Linked DNA regions of Homo sapiens: all the other regions are linked to region 1. The links come from fine-mapping of genetic effects on gene expression. A gene starts in region 1. Each other region holds a variant in brackets. All regions are shown on one strand. Distances are from middle to middle.

What was found. PIP is the estimated chance that this variant, and not a neighbour inherited with it, causes the effect. A credible set is the group of variants that fine-mapping cannot tell apart.
Region 2: its variant is the best candidate, but not a certain one, in a credible set for the expression of RBPMS2 in prefrontal cortex (GTEx, PIP 0.90).
Region 3: its variant is the best candidate, but not a certain one, in a credible set for the expression of RBPMS2 in fibroblasts (GTEx, PIP 0.78).
Region 4: its variant is the best candidate, but not a certain one, in a credible set for the expression of RBPMS2 in whole blood (TOPMed, PIP 0.53).

Annotation. Positions count from the first base shown.
Region 1 is chr15:64,774,509-64,777,188 of GRCh38, forward strand. RBPMS2 (RNA binding protein, mRNA processing factor 2) reads right to left here and starts at 1,081. Exons shown (of 8, transcript NM_194272.3): 1 at 725-1,081. The coding sequence starts at 811. RefSeq lists enhancers at 942-1,788, 1,789-2,634 and a silencer at 1,257-1,506.
Region 2 is chr15:64,804,136-64,806,815 of GRCh38, forward strand. No RefSeq gene overlaps it. Among named protein-coding and RNA genes, the nearest start is that of PIF1, 20 kb to the right of the region's middle. RefSeq lists enhancers at 1,546-2,054, 2,562-2,680. The variant C/G (reference allele first, on the strand shown) is at 1,436.
Region 3 is chr15:64,571,804-64,574,483 of GRCh38, forward strand. The region is part of intron 2 of ZNF609 (zinc finger protein 609); the gene reads left to right. The region is part of intron 4 of LOC101930091 (a long non-coding RNA gene); the gene reads right to left. Among named protein-coding and RNA genes, the nearest start is that of ZNF609, 110 kb to the left of the region's middle. RefSeq lists enhancers at 363-432, 463-562. The variant C/T (reference allele first, on the strand shown) is at 1,534.
Region 4 is chr15:64,808,720-64,811,399 of GRCh38, forward strand. No RefSeq gene overlaps it. Among named protein-coding and RNA genes, the nearest start is that of PIF1, 16 kb to the right of the region's middle. RefSeq lists enhancers at 9-516, 2,039-2,546, 2,547-2,680. The variant A/C (reference allele first, on the strand shown) is at 1,142.

The DNA of each region.
Region 1 (2,680 bases):
GACGAGATGATTTCGCCCCTCCTGGCAGGATCCCACCCAGGCCAGCTTTGGGGTCCTGGCTTGGTTGCCAGGACAAACCCAGAGAGAGGAGAAGGACGAACTGAGTGTCTTTAGTCATCTTCCAAACTAATTAAATTGTGGGCTCACCTCTGCCAAAGCCCAGGTTCTGGGGCTGTGAAGAAAGCCCGCCCACCCCCATGACAACAGCTCGCAGGAACCGAGGAGCCGGCCGGCCCAGGCCTCCAAGGTCACGGGGAGGGGGTCAGGGCGGAAAAGGCAGTGGAGTGAGGGTGCCGCCCTCGGGCCGTGCTAATCCCGCTCCGCTCCGTGCCGCCGAGGCGGGGTCCTGGCCACGCAGGAGGTGCGCCTCGGAGGAGGGCGGCGAGCGGCTACGGGGTGGGGAGCAAGGGGCGCGCGGGCGGCAGGCATGGAACGGACGCGGCGCATCTCGCCCACCGCGGGACGCCCGGACGGCGGCCGGCGCGCGCGGCCCGCCTCGAGCCCGAGAGGGCGGGGAGACAATGCCTGTCCGGCGGGGCAGTCCAGGCCGCACGCTCCCGCCCGCGGACACGGGCCGCTCCTACCCGGGCGAGAGGGCAGCGGCGGGAAGGCGCCGGGAGCGATGGCCACCCCGGCCCCGCGAGGCGCGGCAGGCCCCGCTCGCCCTCTCCCGCGCCCGCCTGGCGTGCGCTTCACCCGGCAAGTCCCGGGGCCACAGACCCACCTCCTCCTCCAGGGCGCCGCCGGAGCCCGCGCCGGAGCCGGTGCCGGTGCTGCCGCCGTGCTCGCCGTCCGGCTTCAGGTTGCTCATGGTGCGGGGGAGGGGGCGGCGGGAAGGAACGCGAGGGCGAGCGCGGCGCCGGCCCCGCGGGAAGTGGGAAGGGGCGCGGGGAGCGGTGCGCTCGCGGGTGCGGAGCGGGTGGCGGGGGACCCACGGGGCAGTGAGAGGGGCAGCCTCCGCGTCGGGCCAGGGTCACATCAAGTTTGGCGGGTGCGGAAGGTGGGGAGGGGGTGCGGCGGGGGAGGCAGTGGGAGCCGGAGGGGCCGCCGCCTCCGCCTTTTCACTGCGACCGGCGAGTGCGCCGCGGCGGCGGCGGCGGCGGCAGCGGCGGCGGGGGGCGGGCGCCGGGGGAGGGGGCGGGCGCCGGCGGCGGGGGGCGGGGCCGGAACCGGCCTCAGCTGGGGCCCGGCCAGCCCCCTCCCCCGCCCGCCGCGCGGTCTCCGGGGGAACGCGCAGCCAATCCCCACCGCCCACCGTGGGCTCGCCCCGGCCCCGGCCGCGGGGCGCCGGCCTCCGGCCGGGCCTTTCCCCTCTCTCTCGCCTGGGTCAGCGCTCTCCCTCTCTCCTCTTCCCCCGCGCCCTTCTCCACGGCGAGTTTTTAAACTTTGATGAACTCGCCCGGCGAACTTTCTTAAAGGGGCCGCGCGCTGCGCGCCCCAGCCCGCGGGAGGTGGAGCCCCGTGCCCCGCACCCAGCGCCCCGGTCCCTGGGCGGCCCTGCCCGGGCGGCCTCGCGCTTAGGGCACCCGCAGCGAGGTTTCCGGGCCGTCGACTCCCCTTGTATCTTGATCTAGGGTTTTGGGGTTCCCGACGCACTCATTCTGCCCCTAAATCCAGTCGCGCAGACCTCAGCTCCGGGGGACCGAGTTCTGGGGGTGATGGCCGGGGGGAGGGGGTTGGGAGACACCTGAGCTTTGGCCCGGGCTGGGCGCTGTTTTGCTGAGTGACCTTGAGGAAATCACTTCCCCTCTCTGGCCTCAGGCTCCCAGCCCAGAGGGTGGGACTTAGGATCTCAAACTCCCTTCCCACTCCCAGTCACTATCTGAATAGGACTTAGGTGGGGATTCGAGTGTTGGGACCCCAATGGTCATTAGCGAGGGCTGCCTCGAATGACCAAGAAGGTTCTGTTGCCCACCTTGCCCTCAACACGCCTGGCTTTCGGGTCTTCTCGCTCCTCCCCCGACCTCAGTGCCCCTCACACCTTTCCCTGCCTCCTATTCTGAGCCCGAAGGCTGGGGACGGATGTAATAGCCTAGAGGCTGGGGGAGGTGGGGGAGGTCGTCGTGACTCCCCCCGCACCCCCGCGCAGGTCAGTAGGGCGCGGCCTCTGGGTCGGTTTTCTCTTCTATTTGAAAACCCAGCCGATGGGGGCCCGCCCTGCTGCCACAGTAGAAACCCGCACCCACCTCGGGGAGCGCTGGAAGCGCTGCAGCCTGAATCCGGCAGAGCCGCGGGAGAACTGGGTCCCTCCTCAGTGCCCCTTCTCCTGGACGGGGCGGAGGTTGCGGTGACCCGAGATCTTGCCATTGCACTCCAGCCAGGGCAACAAGAGCGAAACTCCGTCTCAAAAAAAGAAAAGAAAAAAGAAAAGCTGGATTTGCAGTCACGGACTGGTTAGGATCCCAGACCGTGGACAAGTGCCTGAGCCCCCAGAACCTCTGTGTGTCGACCTCCTGAATTAGGTAGGACTAGCACCACAGGATCACTGTGCTGTGGCTTAGTCTTCCCAGTAAATTATAATCTCCATCCTGACCTGCCATCTCACAGATAAATTGAGGCCTAGAGATGGGCAATGTCTTTCCAATGATATACTCATTCCTTTAGTAAATAATTATTGAGCACCTACTGTGGGCTGGGGACCATTTTCTGCTGGTGGCAAGGCCAAGAGCACCCTGGTTTC
Region 2 (2,680 bases), 30 kb after region 1:
CCATGTTGGCCAGGGATGGTCTTGATCTCTTGACCTCGTGATCCACCTGCCTCGGCCTCCCAAAGTGCTAGGATTACAAGCATGAGCCACCGCGACTGGCCAACTCTGAGCTTTTTTAGAGTTGGCAGCAAGGATGTTTCTGAAGGTCAAAGATAATCCCGTGTCAAAAACAGCTCTGGGGCAGGAGGAGTCATGTTCTGTGGGAATGAGCCCTCAGACCCAGCCACTTCCTCATCAAATGTCCTAGTAGCTGGGTCTCCTGGAGCCCCTAGCTCTGCATTCCCACAGGATGGTAGGAGCTGCTGATGGAGGCAGGCAAGTGGAAGTCCAGCCCTGTAGGAGCTCCAGTTCACAGAGGGGAACTGAACTGGCCTTTTTGGAGGAAAAGAAGACTTGAACCAAACTTGGAGGACCTGGTCAACTTGGATGAAGGAGAGTGAGGTGGGACGAGTAGGCTTTCTGTTCAGTGCAGAAAAGCTGGGACTGCTGGTTAAGCCATCAGCATTTCCCAAGCCCCACGGGTGTGTCCCACTGGGTGTTCACACCACAGACCCTTCAAGGGAGGATTGTCATTGCTGTGTGTCAGATGAGGAAACTCAGCCAGGGTCCAAGACTGCAGGAGGGATGTGCTGAATGCATGTGATGAGGAAATGGGGACCATTCTTTTATTTATTTATTTATTTATTTATTTATTTATTTATTTAGAGACAAGGCTTGCTCTGTAACCCAGGTTGGAGTGCAGTGGCACAATCTCGGCTCACTGAAGCCTTGACTCCCAGGCTCAAGCAATCCTCCCACCTCAGCCTCCCAAGTAGCTGGGACCACAGGTGTGTGCTACTGCACTGGGCTAATTTTTTTCTTTTCTTTCTTTCTTTCTTTTTTTTTTTTTTCGAGATGGAGTCTCGCTGTCACCCAGACTGGAGTGCAGTGGTGTAATCTTGGCTCACTGCAACCTCTACCTCCTGGGTTCAAGTGATTCTCCTGCCTCAGCCTCCCAAGTAGCTGGGACTACAGGCTCGCATCACCACGCCCAGCTAATTTTTGCATTTTCAGTAGAGACAGGGTTTCACCATGTTGGCCAGGCTGGTCTTGAACCCCTGACCTCAAGTGATCCATCTGCCTTGACCTCCCAAAGTGCTGGGATTACAGGTGTGAGCCACTGTGCCCAGTCCTTTCTTTTTTTTTCTTTTCTTTTTTTTTTTTTTTTTGAGACAGTCTTGCCCTGTCGCCCAGGCTGGAGTGCAGTGGCGCGATCTCGGCTCACTGCAACCTCCGCCTCTCAGGTTCAAGCTATTCTCTGCCTCAGCCTCCGGAGTAGCTGGGATTACAAGCACCCACCACCACGCCCGGTAATTTTTGTATTTTTTTAGTAGAGATGGGGTTTCACCATCTTGGCCAGGCTGGTCTTGAACTCCTGACCTTGTGATCCACCTGC[C/G]TTGGTCTCCCAAAGCGTTGGGATTACAGGCGTGAGCCACCATGCCTGGCCTTTTCTTTTCTTTTTTTGAGACAGGATCTTGCTCTGTCCTTCAGGCTGGAGTGCAGTGGCACTATCAGCTCACAGCAGCCTTGACCTCCTGGGCTCAAACAATCCTCCTGCCTCAGCCTCCTGAGTAGCTGGGACTACAGGTATGCATCACCACACTCAGCTAATGTTTTTTTGATTTTTTGTAGAGACAAGGTCTCACCATGTTGTCCGGGCTGGACTTGAACTCCCAAAAGTGTTGGGATTACAGGCATAAGCTGCTGCGCCCAGCTGAGAGAGACCATTCTGAGAGAGGCCATGGGAGCCTCAGCAGGCTGTGAGACAACCTTAGCCAGGGCAGGAGCCTGGAAACAGGTGGGCAGATGAGGCTGGGCTGATGGGAGATGCATGAGGTCTGAGCTGGAAGGGATCTCAAAGATCTCTCCAACTCATTTTACAGGAGGAAATTGAGGCCCAAAGAGGGAAAGGGGCTTGCCCAATGACACACAAGAGGTTAACGGTAGAGCCAGGCTAGAAAGACCCAGAGAAGATCAAGTACACCCCAATTAAACACAAAGTTCACCCTCACATACTCCCACCTCCAGGCACCACCGCCCCCGCCCCATCCAACAAGCACACTAACACTGGGGCAGTGACAGTGGCTGCATTTCCTCCTATAATAGACCCTCTTTTCCCAGGATGAAGCCCCCACCTTAGGTTATTAGGGGCTCCAGTCAGACCCAGCTCAGCTTCTATTTCACTGTGGGGACCCTGGGGCCTTCCTTCCCATTCCCTGAGCCACAGTTTGCTCATCTGTGATGTGAGGCCACTGGACCAACTGACCACTGTGGTTTTTTCAGTTCTCAGTGAGCAGAGGAAGGCGAGGCTAGGGCTTCTTCCTCCCTCTGGTCCCCCAGCCCCCAGTCCAGCCTGACAGGGGTGGGGCCGGCCTGCTGGGGCTCACATGCCTGAGGAGTAAGCTCCTGGTCCCGAGGAGGCAACATGATCTGTAAAAGATCCCTGACCATCTTTTTGAACCCTGGAGAGGGCGTCTCAGTCATATGAGGACCACAGGGGGATTAGCGATGCTTAGAAGGGAGGCCAGGGAGGCAGCCACCTGGGGGAAAGACTAGGAAGAGGGGAAGTGGGAGAGAAGGAAGTAGCAGTGGGGCAGGTCTGAGTCAGGGACCGAAGACCTGGGAAAGGCAGCTCTGGTGG
Region 3 (2,680 bases), 200 kb before region 1:
GGGTTACAGGTGCCCACCACCACGCCTGGATAATTTTTGTATTTTTTTAGTAGAGACAAGATTTCGCCATGTTGGTCAGGCTGGTCTCAAACTCCTGACCTCAAGTGATCTCACAAAGTGCTGGTATTACAGGTGTGAGCCCGGCCTTGAGTCTTTGTTTGGTTAGGACTGCCTAGGGATATAGATAGCTATTCTACTTAGTGTTGCTGGAAAGTTGCCCTTAAGGAAGTGACATTTAGGCTGATACTGAAAGATAAAAAGCTAGGTATGCAAAAGTTGAGAAAGGGAAAGAGGAACTTTAGGCAAAGTACAGCAAGTGCAAAGGCCTGAGGGGAAATGGGTTTGACATGGTTCTGTAAACAAAAATGTCACCTTCTGAGTGAGTTCTTCCCTGAATACTGTATTTAAAACTGGCCAGGTGTGGTAGCTGATGACTAATTCCAACACTTTGGGAAGCCGAAGTAGGCAGATCGTTTGAGTCTGAAAGTTCAAGACCAGCCTGGGCCCCATTGTGAGACCTCATTCTTTACAAAAAATAAATTCGCTGGGCATGGTGGCATGTGCCTGTAGTCCCAGGTACTTGGGAGGCTGAGGTGGGAGGATCACTTGAGCCAGGGAGATTGATCCCTGTTTTATTTTCTCCATAACACTTATTATTGTCCCACATAGTATATAATTTATTTTGGTTGTCTCTCCCACAATGGGATATAAGCTTCCTGAGGACAGGGATGTTTGTCTGATTTGTTCATTGTTATTGCCAGGTCCTCCCTTAGCCCATGGGACTTTTTCCAGTAAATTAGAAAAGAATGCCAGGCACGGTGGCTCACACCTGTAACCCCAGCACTTTGGGAGGCCAAGGCAGGCAGTTCACCTGAGGTCGGGAGTTTGAGACCAGCCTGACCAACATGGAGAAACCACCATCTCCACTAAAAATACAAAATTAGCCGGGCATGGTGGCACATGCCTGCATACCTGTAATCCCAGCTACTCAGGAAGCTGAGGCAGGAGAATTGCTTGAAACCGGGAGGCGGAAGTTGTGGTGAGCCAAGATGGTGCCATTGCACTCCAGCCTGGACAACAAGAGCAAAACTCCGTCTTGAGAAAAAAAAGAAAAGAAAAGAAAGTCTCCTTTCCAAAAGGTTGTGGCTCCACGCGGGACACGTAGTTCGGCTAGAAAAGCATGGACCTAGATTTTGGCCTCCTCTTGCCTCCTCAGCCAATTATACAAGACATAATTGAGCAACCATTACATGGCAGTCCTAGGATGCATTCATAGTACCTAGAACAGTGCCAACGTGTAGCAGACATGAATAAATATTTGTAGAATGATGGAATAGTTTAGAGTGAAGAAGAGTGATTATGAGATGAGAAAGTAAGCAGAAACCAGGTCAAGTAAGACTTCTAAGGAGTTTGATCTTTTTTTTTTTTTTCCTAAATAGCAGTCAACTGACAAGTCCCATGGAATACTTTCCATTAAATCATAATCTGTATTTTCAAAAAGCAGTGCAAGTAATTCTGCAGTAGAGTTAGTGG[C/T]CCAACTTTCTTTTTTTTTTTTTTTTTTTTTTTTTTGAGACGGAGTCTTGCTCTGTCGCCCAGGCTGGAGTGCAGTGGCGCAATCTTGGCTCACTGCAAGCTCCGCCTGCCGGGTTCATACCATTCTCCTGCCTCAGCCTCCCGAGTAGCTGGGACTACAGACACCCGCCACCATGTCTGGCTAATTTAATTTTTTTTTTTTTGTATTTTTAGTAGAGATGGGGTTTCACCTTGTTGAGGATGGTCTTGATCTCCTGACCTCGTGATCCGCCCACCTCGGCCTCCCAAAATGCTGGGATTACAGGCGTCAGCCGCTGTGCCTGGCTAGCAGGCCAACTTTCAATACTTTTGGACCTTCAGGGATCCATCTCCTGCCTATTTCACCCTTGTCTATTTGGCATTTTACTTTGCCTGCATATGTGGGTTTACCATGTTCTTTCAAACTCTGTGCAAGGGAGTTTGGGATGAACTATATGTAAAATATTCATTTTTTTCCTTGCAACCCCAAATCCAAACACAGTTGGATGGAGTTTTTAATCAGGGTTATTGCAGAAAACCCAGGACCTCAGGTCCTTGTGATTGAGTGGTGAATGAAGGGGAAAATGAGGCCACTTGAACATTATTCTGTTTAGGAACTTGCTGTATGAATTAGTAGAGACCATCACATTTTTCATCAATTCCTGCTCTCACCACACCCCGCTCTTGCCCCTGCTAAAAAACTACCAGCCTTCTCTCATGTTATGATTTAGGGGCCCCTGTTCACTGAGGGGCTAACAGCTGGAATTGTGGCACTGCATTAGCCTTTTTTGAGCTTTTATTTCTCTTTCATGCTGGATTTTTTTTTTTTTTTTTTTTTTTTTGGCACCCACACCCCATTTGAGAATTTACTTTCTCTCTGAGAAGTTTTTGTCAGTAGTTTTTTGTTTTATTGCCTTTTCTGTGATAGGTTAAGGATACAGCTTGGTAAAGAAGGAACCTGCAGGGGTTTATTGATGGAGTTCCTGTCCCACCATGCCCTAGGCCTAGTACATACATGCTTCTGATGAATCACTGCTGTTAGTATTTAGTATCTCCTGATCCTCATAGTCCATATTATGCAAAGCATAGAATCTGCCCAAGGGACTTAATAGCTGAATCACTCACTTGA
Region 4 (2,680 bases), 34 kb after region 1:
ACTTTAGAGTTGTCGAAGTCGCTTTCATAAGAAAATGGGCAGAAGACAGAAGGGGGATTATGCCCAAGTGCACTAACTGACCGGGACCTGTACCTCACGTGTGTTGCGGGAGGCAGAGTGGGGAGATTTCATCCTCCCCTTCCCCATGGTGGGTGGGCGCAGCCCAGGTCCTCCAGAAGGCCAGACAGGAAGGAAGGCTTTGTGAAAGATGGCATTCATTTACTCTGGGCTGCTGTGAATTCTCTTTGTTATTCCCCAGAGGCTGCTCAAGAGGGGGTTAATGGGGCGGGGGATGGCCCCTTCAGGTGACAATAATCAAGACAAATAAATAAGAGCTAACCTTGAGGGTTTGCTGCATCCCTGGCCTGACTCCAGCTCTTCTGTCTTCCTAACTCCATCCATGTTTGATCGGCTTTATCCCCATTTCACCAACGATGAAACCAGAGCTCAGATTTAAGCAGAATAACCACAGTCACACAGTCGGGAACTGATGGGGCCAGTGTTTAAACACAGGAATCTGGCTTCAGGGCTCTCTGCTGACTTTGCAAAAATCCCAGGACCCTTTATTTGGGACTTGGGTTCCAGATACAGCTTGCAGTGTGGCCATAGCCAAGTCACCTAACCTCTCAGAAGTTAGGTTTCTCAGCCATGCGCAGTGGTTCATGCCTGTAATCCCAGCACTTTGGGAGAACAAGGCAGGCAGATCACTTGAGGTCGGGAGTTCCAGACCAACCTGACCAACGTGGAGAAACCCCGTCTCTACTAAAAATACAAAATTAGCCAGCTGTAATCCCAGCTACTCGGGAGGCTGAGGCAGGAGAATTGCTTGAACCCATGAGGCAGAGGTTGCAGTGTGCTGAGATGGCACCACTGCACTGCAACCTGGGTGACAGAGCAAGACTGTCTCAAAAAAAACAAAAAAACAAAAAAGAGAAAAGAAAAAGAAATTAGGTTTCTCTCTTTATAAAATGGGGACAATTGTCCCAACCTCCCAGGGTTATTGTGAAAAACAAACTAGAGGGTTAATGAGGCCGGGCATGGTGGCTCGCCCCTGTAATCCCAATGCTTTGGGAGGCTGAGGCAGGAGTATTGCTTGAGCTCAGGAGTTCGAGGCTGCAGCAAGCTCTGACTGCGTCACTGC[A/C]CTCCAACCTGGGTGACAGAGCTAGACCCTATCTCAAAAACAAAAACAAACCAACAAGAGGGTTAATGAGCACAAAGCAGATAATCTGATGGAAGATTATTTAAAACTTCCCTGCTCTACACTAACTCAGCCCCCACCTCCTAAAGTGTCCATGCACCCCCCACCTAAGCCCAGAGACTGGGAGACAAAGGCTCTGCGGTTCCCTGGGAAAGGACTGAATGACCAATTGGCGCCACCTAGTGGTCTGCAGTGCATGGGGAGCGGGAGGGCCCGGCTGCTCCGGGATTGGGGGTTAAGTAAGATCATTAGCCCAGTGCGGATGGGAAAAATATACCAGGACGTCAGAAAGGATGGGGTCAGGCCTAGTTGGCACCCCACTGAAGACAGGGTGAAGGAGCGCACAGGGCTCAGGGTTCTATTCTAGTTCCAGTTCTGCCACTAAGAACCTCTCCAGGCCTCAGCTACCTCCTTTGCAGAATGGGAGTAAACATTCCTTACCTCTCAGGTCACTGTCCAAGCCTTTGTTCACTTATGAAACATTTAATGAAGCATCTGCTTTCAAAAGTCATCCTGCTGAGGGTTGTGAGGACACAAAGACATCTCAGCTGTGTCTCTCGGGATCAAGGGATCCGCTTCATCCTAGCAGGGAGACTGAGCTGTAAATTGCTCACTACCCTCAGATGCAGATCCCAGGGGACACTGAGGAGGGAGCATAAGGCACAGGAGGCAAGTGGAGGGACAGCAGGTAGTGGGACTCCCCCTCCAAGGGTGAATGTCTTTGAGAAGTGGCAGGAACTGTGACAAGTCAGGTCATAAGATTATCTTTCTGAGGGCCATCGCCCCGCCCCTCTTGCCTGGCCCCCTGCCTGCCTCCCAGCTGGGGACTGGATCGCCCTGGGCTGAGCCCCCTACTCTGGGCTCAGCCCCCTCAGGGCCAGGCCAGCCTCCCCACATACCACCTTCTCTTGCATTAAAGCCTTTAAAGTGGACCATAGGTCCATCAAGGATAGTTCACATCTCTGTGCATTTGCACTGTGTAGCTCCTCTCTCCAAACACCTTTTCTCCAACTCGTCCACCTGGCAAAGTCAACTCCAGCCTTCCTGTGGGAGAGTGGAGAGGAGAGTGCGAAATCCCCCAACTAGGAAGGAAACAGAAATGAAGGGGTGCCCCCTGCCCCCATCAGCAGTGGCACAGCCTGTAAGAATGTGAAATATACATTTGGTCTTCATCCCCATTTCCTGGCATACAACTCCTAAAATCCTTGGAATCTCCAAAGTGATAAGTGTCTTTTTGTATGCTGATGATTGCCTGATGGCCGGCAGCCCCTAGGCAGCTTCAGGATGGGGCTGGTCACCAGAAAGACCAGGGCAGGATTAGAGGGTTGGGACTTTCAGCCCCACCCTATGACCTCAGGGGAGGGGAGGGAGCTGAAAGTTAAATTGATGACCAATGGTTAATCAATCATGCTTACATAATGAATTCTCCATAAAAGGCCCCAAAGCAGAGGTTCTAAGAGCTTCTGGGTAGCTGAGCAAGTG